2 separate regions of the Homo sapiens genome follow, and region 2 is linked to region 1. The links come from fine-mapping of genetic effects on gene expression. A gene starts in region 1. The other region holds a variant in brackets. All regions are shown on one strand. Distances are from middle to middle.

Region 1 (5,376 bases):
CGTCTCAAAAAAAAAAAAAAAAAAAAAGAATTTACCAGAGTCCTAGGCTCAATAAACGTTAGCTAGCATTATTTTTTGCCATCCTTGATCATGAGAACCCTGTGTTCCATGCACCTGCTTCTTCTCTTCACTTCTTTTATGATACTAAATTTAATTTTAAAATAATACCAAAAAGTGGCAAGAACAGTACAAATAACTTTCTTTTCCCCAAATATTTGACAGTATGCTGCTGACACAATGCCTCTTCACCTCCTAATACTTTAGAGCAAGAGTTGACAAACTCTGACCTGTGGCCAAATCTGGCCCCTCCAACTGTTTTTGCATGGTCCTCCAGCTAAGAATGCATTTTACATTTTTATTTTTTTATTTTTTTGAGACGGAGTCCCGCTCTGTTGCCTAGGCTGGAGTGCAGTGGCACGATCTCGACTCACTGCAACCTCCGCCTCACAGGTTCAAGCGATTCTCCTGCCTCAACCTCCCAAGTAGCTGGGATTACAGGCACCCGCCATCACACTTGGCTAATTTTTGTATTTTTAGTAGAGACGGGGTTTCAACCATGTTGGCCAGGCAGTCTCGAACTCTTGACCTCAGGTGATTAGCCCACCTCGGCCTCCCAAAGTGCTGAGATTACAGGTGTGAGCCACCGCACCCGGCCACATTTTACATTTTTAAATAATTGAGAAAAAAGTACCAATGCTAACACAGCCAATAGCCAAGACAGCACCTTGCATAAGTAGGAACTGGATAAATGTTAACTGAATGGGATGTTTAATTTTAAGATGCTGATATTTCTTGGATTAGACTGATACCTCCAACTCCCTCAATGCCACCTGCTGGGTGCTGAATGTAGAGAGAGAATTGGAGCTCCAAGGACCAATAATTAAATGTAAATTATTATGGAAACTTTCACATGCATATTCTTTTTACTTCTAAAAAGCTACTATCGCATTTATGCTTATCTCATTCTCCCAAGACCCCAGTCAAGGGATTGAAGAAATTATTTATTTATTTTATATATATTTTTTGAGACAGAGTTTTGCTCTTGTTGCCCAGGCTGGAGTACAACGGCACGATCTCAGTTCACTGCAACCTCCGCCTCCTGGTTTCAAGCGATTCTCCTGCCTCAGCCTCCCGAGTAGTTGGGACTACAGGAGTGCACCACTACGCCTGGCTAATTTTTTTGTATTCTTAGTAGAGATGGGTTTTCACCATGTTGGCCAGGCTGGTCTCGAACTCCTGACCTCAGGTGATCCGCCCGCGTCTTTCTCCCAAAGTGCTGGGATTACAGGCGTGAGCCACCGCGCCCGGCCGATTGAAGAAACTGTTATAGAAAGCTGTTCATGGAACAAGCCAAGCTCATTTCTGCCTCAGGGCCACTGCACTTGCCTTTCTCTTTGTCCAAAACGCTCTCCCCTTTGATATTTTTCACCTTGTTCCTTTATTTCAATCAAGTCTCCACTAAAATGTCATCTTCTCTGTCACTCTAAAAAGTCCCCCATACATACTCTCCAACTTCCCACTTTCACTGTTTTATTGCTATTCACAAATGTTATACATTTATCACTAGCTGACTTGTATCTAGTTGTTTACTGTTCATTTCCCCAACTACAATTGAAGCAAAGACTTTGTTCACTTAGTACTGTGCCTAGCATAGACTAAGCCCTCAATAAGTATTTACTGAACTAATGAATGACTCTAACAAGGTACACAGAATATAGCTGATTTGCCCACAGTTACACAAAACTAGCGACTCATGGTAACAAACCTCACTGCCGCTTCCCGCTACAATGCAGGAGCTCAGAGGACTTCGGAGGGAACTTGGCAAAGAACGGCTGAAAGCGGCACGGATAGAAGAGGAAGTGAGCGAGGGGACTGGACAGTTAGAGCACCACTCCTACCTAGCGATACGATTTTACGGACTGAGGCTATAGAGGCAGCCCCGAAATCGAGGTGTGTGCGTGTGTGCGCGCTTCGGAAGCCTTGGGAAGGCACGAGGACGACAGGGTCTTCCATTCTTTTTCCCGCTCCAGGCCTCAATTTACCGATCCGTAAAGCGAAAGGGGCCAATAGCATATAAGGCCCCTTCCAGATCTGACGCTTTTTAATTTCCTATCCCACCTGGAGCAACCCTTCCGTGCCGCTGACCCGCTTCAACTTACCTCTCGCCTGCTCAGCTAAGAGTTCCCAGGCCGCTGCCGGAGATCGTGCTTCCGCCCCACGCCGAGGAAACGCCTGCGCCCGCCGCCAGGAAGGACCCCGCAGACGCCGCTGTCGCCTTTCTGCCCGGGAGGACAACCCTCTGCCTGAGGACCAGTTCCGAGGTATGCCCGCCGCGGACTGGCAAGGCGGAGTAGCGGGTCCCCAAGACGAGTAGCCCAAGACGTGGGCTGCTCCAAAGAGGGTGAGAGCTGAGGATGAACGAATCTGATCAGGCGCCTCGGGACCACCCTGAAAATGGGGGGAGGGGCCTTCGGGCAGATCACGTGGTCAGGCTGTTAGCGCAGTTGCTAGGCAACCACAGCTGCGGGCGTGGTCTGCGCGGGGTTGCCCTCCTGTTCTGGTTTATCAGGGGATCCCCAAAGAAAGCAAGGGGACCAAGGCCGGGACTGCTGGGGTGAAGGTCCGGGAGGCTGAGTAAGGGGACGGAAGGGTTAGTTCTATGTATTAAATGCCTGGGGAGGGCTGAGAACTGGACACCTGATTTCGGTTACTGGCCACCCCAGCCCCTTCTTGGCGTTCAGATTCCCTACGTTGGGGTAGGGTGGCTATGGGATTGGTTGGGGACTTCCTGCTTCCTTGCGCTAGGGCTGTTGGTGATGACCCCGCCACAAAATCTAGCTCAACTCACTAGGAGTTTGCAGTTCAGAGAGGTCCCACAAGTAAATGCCAGAGCCACGACTAGAACCCACGTAGAGAATCTCTCTGCAGTGGCTCACGCCTGTAATCCCAGCACTTTGGGAGGCCGAGGCGCGCGGATTACTTGAGGTCAGGATCGAAAATTGCTTGAACCCCGGAGGCAGAGGTTGCAATGAGCCAAGATCGCGCCACTGCACTCCAGCCTGGGCAACAGAGCCAGAAAAAAAAAAAAAGAAAAGAATATCTCTGTAGAAATGATCAGTCAGCCTCAGATATGCAGAAACTACAGAAGTACAGTGATAGAACTAAAGGCATTGCCCAGGTACCTAGGGACCTCTGTTCCAGCCCTGGGCTGGACAGAGGGATTTGGGGATGGGGTCATTGAGCTCCTTCCTTTGCCCCTTCTACTTGATTTCCTGCTCAGTCATTGCATCTGGTTTGGGTGAAAGTCTCCTTCCTCATTAAAGACATTCAATGAAGAATGAAACTTTATCCCCGAGCTCAAGGGTAACTAACAAGAGTTCTGCCTTTGTGTGAGGTCCCCTGTCGAAACGACTTGCTGTAGAACAATCCTATGGGGGAAGAGTGAAGAAACTGAATTCTGAGATCCCAATGCCTCCTCGACTGAAGCACCAAAATTAAAAATATTTTTAGAGGCAAAGAGCAAAATTAAGACAGAACTCCAAATTGAAAGTCAGGACTCTGTATTCTATTTTCAGGGACAAGTCTTGTGTAAGTCCTCACTGTGAAATTCAACTTGTCTTTGTAAAATAGAAAACCAGATTTTTGTAACACCTCCCAATCTGAGTGACATGATGTCCAGAGTGCTTTGGGGTCATTTTGTGTTCTGGTGAATAATTCAGAGGTACCCTCTTTCCCCTGATATTGACTGTCCACTGACATGTATTCCCTTTGCCTTCCCAGGCACAGGCCATGGAAAGGAATGACATCATCAACTTCAAGGCTTTGGAGAAAGAGCTGCAGGCTGCACTCACTGCTGATGAGAAGTACAAACGGGAGAATGCTGCCAAGTTACGGGCAGTGGAACAGAGGGTGGCTTCCTATGAGGAGTTCAGGTTGGCTCACTGCCATTTTTCTCAGGCCCTCCTGTTATGGTGGATTATAGTAGTTAACTCTGAAATCAAACCATTCTGGGCTTCAGTCCTGGCCCCACCGTCTACTGTTTGATCTTATGCAATTTCCTTAACTTCTCTGAGTCTCAATTATTTATCTGTAGAACAGTAACTGTTATAATTAAATGAGTTCTTGCACATAAGACTGAGCAAGTGTCTGACACATGTGAGGTGCTTGAAAGCAGTCAGCTATCGCTGTTGTTATTATTATGGTCATATTGGTCCGTAACAGGTTTATCCTATACCATGCAAAGTCTAGCTGCCTCACACCCACAGACACAGCATTAAGTCCATTGCCTAATTTCTGTCCTTTGCCTACAGGGGTATTGTCCTTGCATCACATCTGAAGCCACTGGAGCGGAAGGATAAGATGGGAGGAAAGAGAACTGTGCCCTGGAACTGTCACACTATTCAGGGAAGGACCTTCCAGGATGTGGCCACTGAAATCTCCCCGGTAGGTGAGGCCCTGCCCCTTTAGTCCAGCAGGATTCTCTGCCCTAAAGCTTCAATCCTGTTTTTTCATTTTGTTTTGTTTTGTTTTGTTTTTTTAACCACACATACCTCTTCTTTATTTGTCATGTTAAACCAACAGAGATAGGTTTCTGCCTCCAATCCCAGAAAGAAAAACAAACAGCAGATGGCAAAGCTGAGTTGAAGTGGGCAGAATGAGTCAGAAAGTTGGGCTAGGAAGGTCGGCTTCCCTTAGTCCTTTGACTTTCATTCTCAGATCAGAATTGGGATGCTCTGCCTCTGGGTTGTATGGTGTCTAGTGTAATGATCCTGTGGCAGTGTTGAGAGAGAGACCCCAACATTCAGATCCTTGAGTTCCTTTCTCTCTTCCTGAGATTTCCAATCAACCCATCCACCCGACTTACAGTAAACCCTGACTTACTCTTGAAGACCAGAGCTATGTCTCCATTCATGAGTAGGAAAATTCCAGTATAAATGAGAATCTCAAATCATGGCGTGGATTCCTTGGGGCCCTCCCTGTTTCATCCCCAGTTTCCTCATCTGAAAATGAGGCCGCCAAGGACCACAGCTTTCCCAGTGCTCAGACAGTAGTGAGATGAAGACAGTAAGATGAAGAGCTACAGGCTCCCCTCCCTGTCACTGTTGCAGAACAGCTGGAAGAGCTCCTGACTCCCTTTCCTTCCTTTGTGGTCCAGGAGAAAGCCCCCCTCCAGCCCGAGACGTCTGCTGACTTCTATCGTGATTGGCGACGACACTTGCCAAGTGGGCCAGAGCGCTACCAGGCTCTACTGCAGCTTGGGGGTCCAAGGCTCGGCTGCCTCTTCCAGACAGATGTGGGATTTGGACTTCTTGGGGAGCTGCTGGTGGCACTGGCTGATCACGTGGGGCCGGCTGACCGGGCAGCGGTGCTGGGGAT
Region 2 (5,376 bases), 40 kb before region 1:
CACTACCTCTGTGAAAACCCCAACTGCCTTAATCAGCACAAGTGATAAGTACAACAGCAGGTTAAAAGAGCTGTCCAAATCATCACCAAAAAGCCCAAGAAAACTTACTGTAGTAAAGAAATTAGATTCCTGAGCCAAGAGTAAGTGGGGTATCAAACTAGGGCCTTAATTCTAGTCTTCAAAGGTAGCTCTCAGCATCCATTCAGCCATCTACCACCATTCACTGAACAACCCCCATGGGTCTGACAGAGCTGGTGCTGAGACCCACTGGCGTGCACCCATGTCATTCTCAACCCACAGCATCTGAGTGAAGCTCTGCCCTGAAGCCCCAACATGGTCTGCTGCCCAGGAAACCCAGTGTTTTCTATGACACCAATCCTTCCTCCTTCCTAGATACATCAGTAGAGGAGTCTAAGAGGGGTATTGAGGGTCCTCCACAGGGCCTTGGAGAAAATACGACTCAACTAGGACAAGGAGGCCAAGCAACACATGGTTTGAGGGGCTACATCAAGGCTTGACAAAGAATCTGGGAGAGACAGTCCCCACCCTCTCCTTGAAACCACCCACTCTGAGACCTAATCACCACCCATGGGTTAATTGTTTAATTGTGCAATTATTTCCCTAACAAAGGACCAAGAATAACTTTGGCTTGGGAGCCTTTATTTTCTTTTTCCTTTTTTTTTTTTTTTTTTTGAGACAGAGTCTCGCCCTATCACCCAGGCTGGAGTGCAATGGTGCGATCTTGGCTCACTGCAACCTCTGCCACCCGGTTTCAAACAATTATCCTGTCTCAGCCTCCTGAGTAGCTGGGATTACAGGTGCCCGCCACCATGTCTGGCTAATTTTTGTATTTTTAGTAGAGACAGAGTTTCACCATGTTGGTCAGGCTGGTCTTGAACTCCTGACCTCAAGCAATCCAACCGCCTTGGACTTTCAAAGTGTTGGGGTTACAGGCGTGAGCCACCGTGCTCGGCCTGTTTTATTATTTTTCAATGCATTTATTTTTTGAGACAGGGTCTTGCTCTGTCACCCATGCTAGGGTGCAGTGGCATGATCGTAGCTCACTGCAGCCTCGAACTGCTGGGCTCAAGCAATCCTCCTGCTTCAGCCTGCGGAGTAGCTGGGACTATAGGTGCAAGCCACCACACCTGACTAATTTTTATTTTTTAGTTTTTTGAGACAGGGTATGACTCCATCTCAAAAAGGAGAGCAATGGCACAATGATTGCTCATTGCAGCCATGACCTCCTAGGCTCAGGTTGGAGAGCAATGGCACAATCACAGTTCATTGCAGCCTTGACAGTCTAGGTTCAGGTGATCCTCCCACCTAAGCCCCCCAGTAGCTGGACTACAGGTACATGCCACTGCACTGGGCTGGTTTGTAGAGACGAGGTTTCACTATGTTGCCCAGATTGGTCTCAAACTGGGCTCAAGCAATCCTCTCACCTCAGTCTCCCAAAGTGCTGCAATTACAGCAACGGACCACCATGCCCGGCCTGGCTATTTTTTTTATTTTAATTTTTGTAGAGGCAGTGTCTCACTTTGTTGCTCAGGTTGGTCTTGAATTCCTGGCTACAAGCAATCCTCCCACCTCGGCCTCCCAAAGTGCTGGGAGTGAGCCACCAAGCACGGCTGAGCCTTGATTTTAAACGTATGACACAGCAGAAGGGGGCAAACCAGTTCTCAAAAACCTTCCCATATAAGGAGCAACAGATCATGGTTTTCACAAACACATGTACTCTCTCTTCCCTTGGAGCTTCCCAGGAATTCAAGGATTTGGTCACTTGTGAAAAGTCTGGACCGTGAACCCAGCTCCCGGCAGATACTGCTGTACCTTGATGTCTATCTCTGAGTACATCTTCCGCAAATCATGCATCACACAGTCCAGGTAGAGCTCCCCAGTGCCCAGGATCACATGCTCGCCAGACTCCTCCACCTGAAACACAACAGGCAGTCACAGCCTGGATTCTCTTATGCCAGCAAAGGCACACACAAACAAAATCAAGGCCAGAGCAGACAAGAAGTTGCCTATCAGAAACAGCTACTACTTAGCATCTGTTCCAGCCTCTTCAAGAAGGTTCAGTGAGGAGCATCTGCCTATGAGTGGGTCCTCAAGACACCAGGACCACTCAGCATGGTGATACTAGGTGTGAAGTCAATGATTTAATTCCCATCTTAATGATTTAGGTCAAACTCTACCCTATACCCATGGACATAAGCTAGCCCTTTAGCCCTCCTGGCCTGCTACCTGGAAAGGTACACTGGCAGGCTCATAGTGTACAAGGATCAGAGTAACAACTCACTTTTCCTTCTCTTCTCGAGAAAATCAATTCAAAGTATACTCATTAAGAAATGTATTTTTGTCTAGATAAAGACATCTGCGGAACACAAATACGCACACACACACACACACACAACCTTGTCCTATACCCCCCATCACTGCCCCCTCCTACACAGGTCTTGTTTTAACACACACACATACACACACACA[C/T]GTGTCTTGTCCTGCCTTGACATGACAGCCATAGGCTGGGCTTGCTCCTGACACAGCTTCCTGTAAGCAGCAGATCATGAACACCTGATGGATGGGAAGCGGTGTGCAGCTCTGCCCATTCAGCTGGGGATAGTGGGGCTTGGCGGCTGCTGCAGGCCATGGGCATACCTTGGTGGTGAGGGATGGATAGCTCTTGTTGACCTTGCGCAGGCCATCAAGCATCTTGGGCAGCTCTGAGGGGTTGACTGGCTCCACAGCAATCTTGATAACAGATGTGGTATTGAACTTCAAGGGTCGGAAAATCTGAGCCTGAGATCCAAAGCACAAAGGACTGAGGGCAACTGGCATGAGCAGGCACAGAAAGTGCAGAGGTATGAGAAGAGAAGAGGACTTGCTTAGGATCAGACTATGTATTCCCCAACCAGGAGCCTGGTGCTGAGTGGGGGTAACCTGAAGGGCCATTTCTTCCCAGGTATTCTGGCAGAACAAAGAGAGGAGGAAAATAATAAAAGGCACCCGTCCTAATTCCTCGCATCTGAACTGAGTACAGGGAGAATCCAGCAGGGTCATATCTAGAAGGCTAAGCCTGAAACCAGGACATGGCAATGACTGTGGATTAGTCCCGTTTGTGCTCATGTGTGTCCCTGGGACCATCTAGCTTAAGCCAACCCAGTTGGTCTCTTCAGAAACTCTACCTCCTCATTGCCTCGGGGTTCGGTTATGGTTGCTGTCTTCACAATTGGTTGATCAACACCTTCAATCAGAACCCAGTTGCCAGCAGGAACACGGTTCACCTCGATGTGGTACCTGAAGCAATGTCCAATAAGCAGCAGTGAAACTTAGGCAGAGCATTCCCTAATTTTTTTTTTTTTTTTTTTTTTGAGACAGGATCTCACTTTGTTACCAGGCTGGAGTGCAGTGGCACAATCTTGGCTCACTGCAGCCTCGAACTTCCAAGGTTCCAGTGATCCTTCTGCGTCAGCCCCCCAAGTAGCTGGGACTACAGGCACACACTAACATGCCCAACTAATTTTTGTATTTTTGTAGAGACGGGGTTTTTTCATGTTGTCTAGGCTGGTCTTGAACTCCTGAGCTCAAGCAATCCTCCTGCCTCAGCCTTCCAAAGTGCTAGGATTACAGGTGTGAGCCACCACATCCAGCCTATTCCACAAAAATTTACTGAGTACTTGCTGCGTGCCAAGAGCAGGGGTGAGCAAAACAGATACATTCTAGCAGGGGAGAGATACAGTAAACAATCATTATCCACACATGTATGTGGTTACAAACTGATGGGCATTATGAAAGAAAAGTACAAGGTATTTCTGTGAGGACATAAGAGGAAAATCTTATTCCAATTGCAGGCTCATGGTAAAAAGCTGCCCAAGGTGTCGACTGTAAGGGGCTAGCAAAAGCATCAAAGAAGGCCGGGTGTGGCGGCTCACGCTTATAATCCCAGTGCTTTGGGAGGCTGAGGTGGGTGGCTGGATCACCTGAGGTCAGGAGTTTGAGACCAGCCTGGCCAACATGGTGAAAACTATCTCTACTAAAAATACAAAAAATTAGCCAGACATGGTGGTGCACACCTATAACCCTGGCTACTTGGGAGGCTGAGGCAGGAGAATCGCTTGAACCCGGGAGGCAGAGGTTGCAGTGAGCCGCAATCACGCCATTGCACTCCAGCCTGGCTGACAGAGAGAAAAAAAAAAAAAAAAAAAGGCTGGGAGCGGTGGCTCACACCTATAATCCCAGCACTTTGGGAGGCTGAGGCAGGTGGATCATGAGGTCAGGAGATCGAGACCATTCTGGCTAATACGGTGAAACCTGTCTCTACTAAAAATACAAAAAAATTAGCTGGGCATGGTGGCGGGCGCCTGTAGTCCCAGCTACTTGGGAGGCTGAGGCAGCAGAATGGCATGAACCCAGGAGGTGGAGCTTGCAGTAAGCCGAGATCACAGGCACTGCACTCCAGGTTGGGCGACAGAGTGAGACTCCATCTCAAAAAAAAAAGCATCACAGAAAACTTCCACTTTCCCAGCTCTTCAATATTCCACCTTTTGGCATTTAGGGTGGATTTAACAAAAGGGACCACCATTGAGGCAGGGTAGCCACCTTAGGGAACACGAATGCTTTGGTTTAACTTGTCAACTGGGAAACCAAATTCATAAACTGACAAGTAGCCCAGAGGCCCAAGCTAAGTTTGACTGCAGATTGGGATGCTACAAGGGATCCAGCGAAGCCTTCTCTCTTGGTCAAAGAGTAGACAGTGGAGTTGGGGAACAATTTCTTTTGGGAAGAAACACAAAGATTATGACTTAAGGAACACAGGAGAGGAAATGAAAAGAGGATTAAGATGAGTAACAATGGAAATCCTCCTACAAAAGTTCATACAAGCTTCATGCTTTCAAAAGGGCTTTAAGATGGTGTGTGGTGGCTCACACCTGTAATCCAACACTTTTGAGAGGCTGAGGTGGGAGGATCACTTGAGCCCAGGAGTTGGAGACCAGCCTGGGCAATATAGTGAGACATTGTCTCTACAAAAAATTTAAAAATTAGCCAGACATAGTGGTGTGTGCTTGTAGTTCCAGCTACTCAGGAGGCTGAGGTGGAAGGACTGCTTGAGCCCAGGAGGCGGAGGTCGCAGTGAGCTGAGATTGTGCCACTGCACTCTGGCCTAGGAGACAGAGTGAGACCCTGTCTCAAAACAAACAAATAGGGCTAAAAAAAAAAGTTCACACGAGCCACCCAAAGTGCAAAGGCGAAGCTTCTGGCACTGTTCCAACAGTAGCTGCCTTTGGCCCCAGCAAACCTGGGACAGGAAGAACTTGAAGTCAATAGCCCTGCGGAGGGAGAGCCACTTTATCCCCTCTTGCACAGAGCCTTGCAACT

Evidence for each region. PIP is the estimated chance that this variant, and not a neighbour inherited with it, causes the effect. A credible set is the group of variants that fine-mapping cannot tell apart.
Region 2: its variant is the best candidate, but not a certain one, in a credible set for the expression of EFTUD2 in whole blood (INTERVAL, PIP 0.66).

What each region holds. Positions count from the first base shown.
Region 1 is chr17:44,897,210-44,902,585 of GRCh38, forward strand. It overlaps EFTUD2 (elongation factor Tu GTP binding domain containing 2), which reads right to left and starts at 2,236. Exons shown (of 28, transcript NM_004247.4): 1 at 2,160-2,236. DNAAF19 (dynein axonemal assembly factor 19) reads left to right here and starts at 2,520. Exons shown (of 4, transcript NM_213607.3): 1 at 2,520-2,650; 2 at 3,781-3,932; 3 at 4,311-4,443; 4 at 5,156-5,376. The coding sequence starts at 3,790.
Region 2 is chr17:44,857,247-44,862,622 of GRCh38, forward strand. EFTUD2 (elongation factor Tu GTP binding domain containing 2) reads right to left here. Exons shown (of 28, transcript NM_004247.4): 17 at 3,186-3,297; 18 at 2,659-2,799; 19 at 1,834-1,935. Among named protein-coding and RNA genes, the nearest start is that of HIGD1B, 12 kb to the left of the region's middle. The variant C/T (reference allele first, on the strand shown) is at 2,491.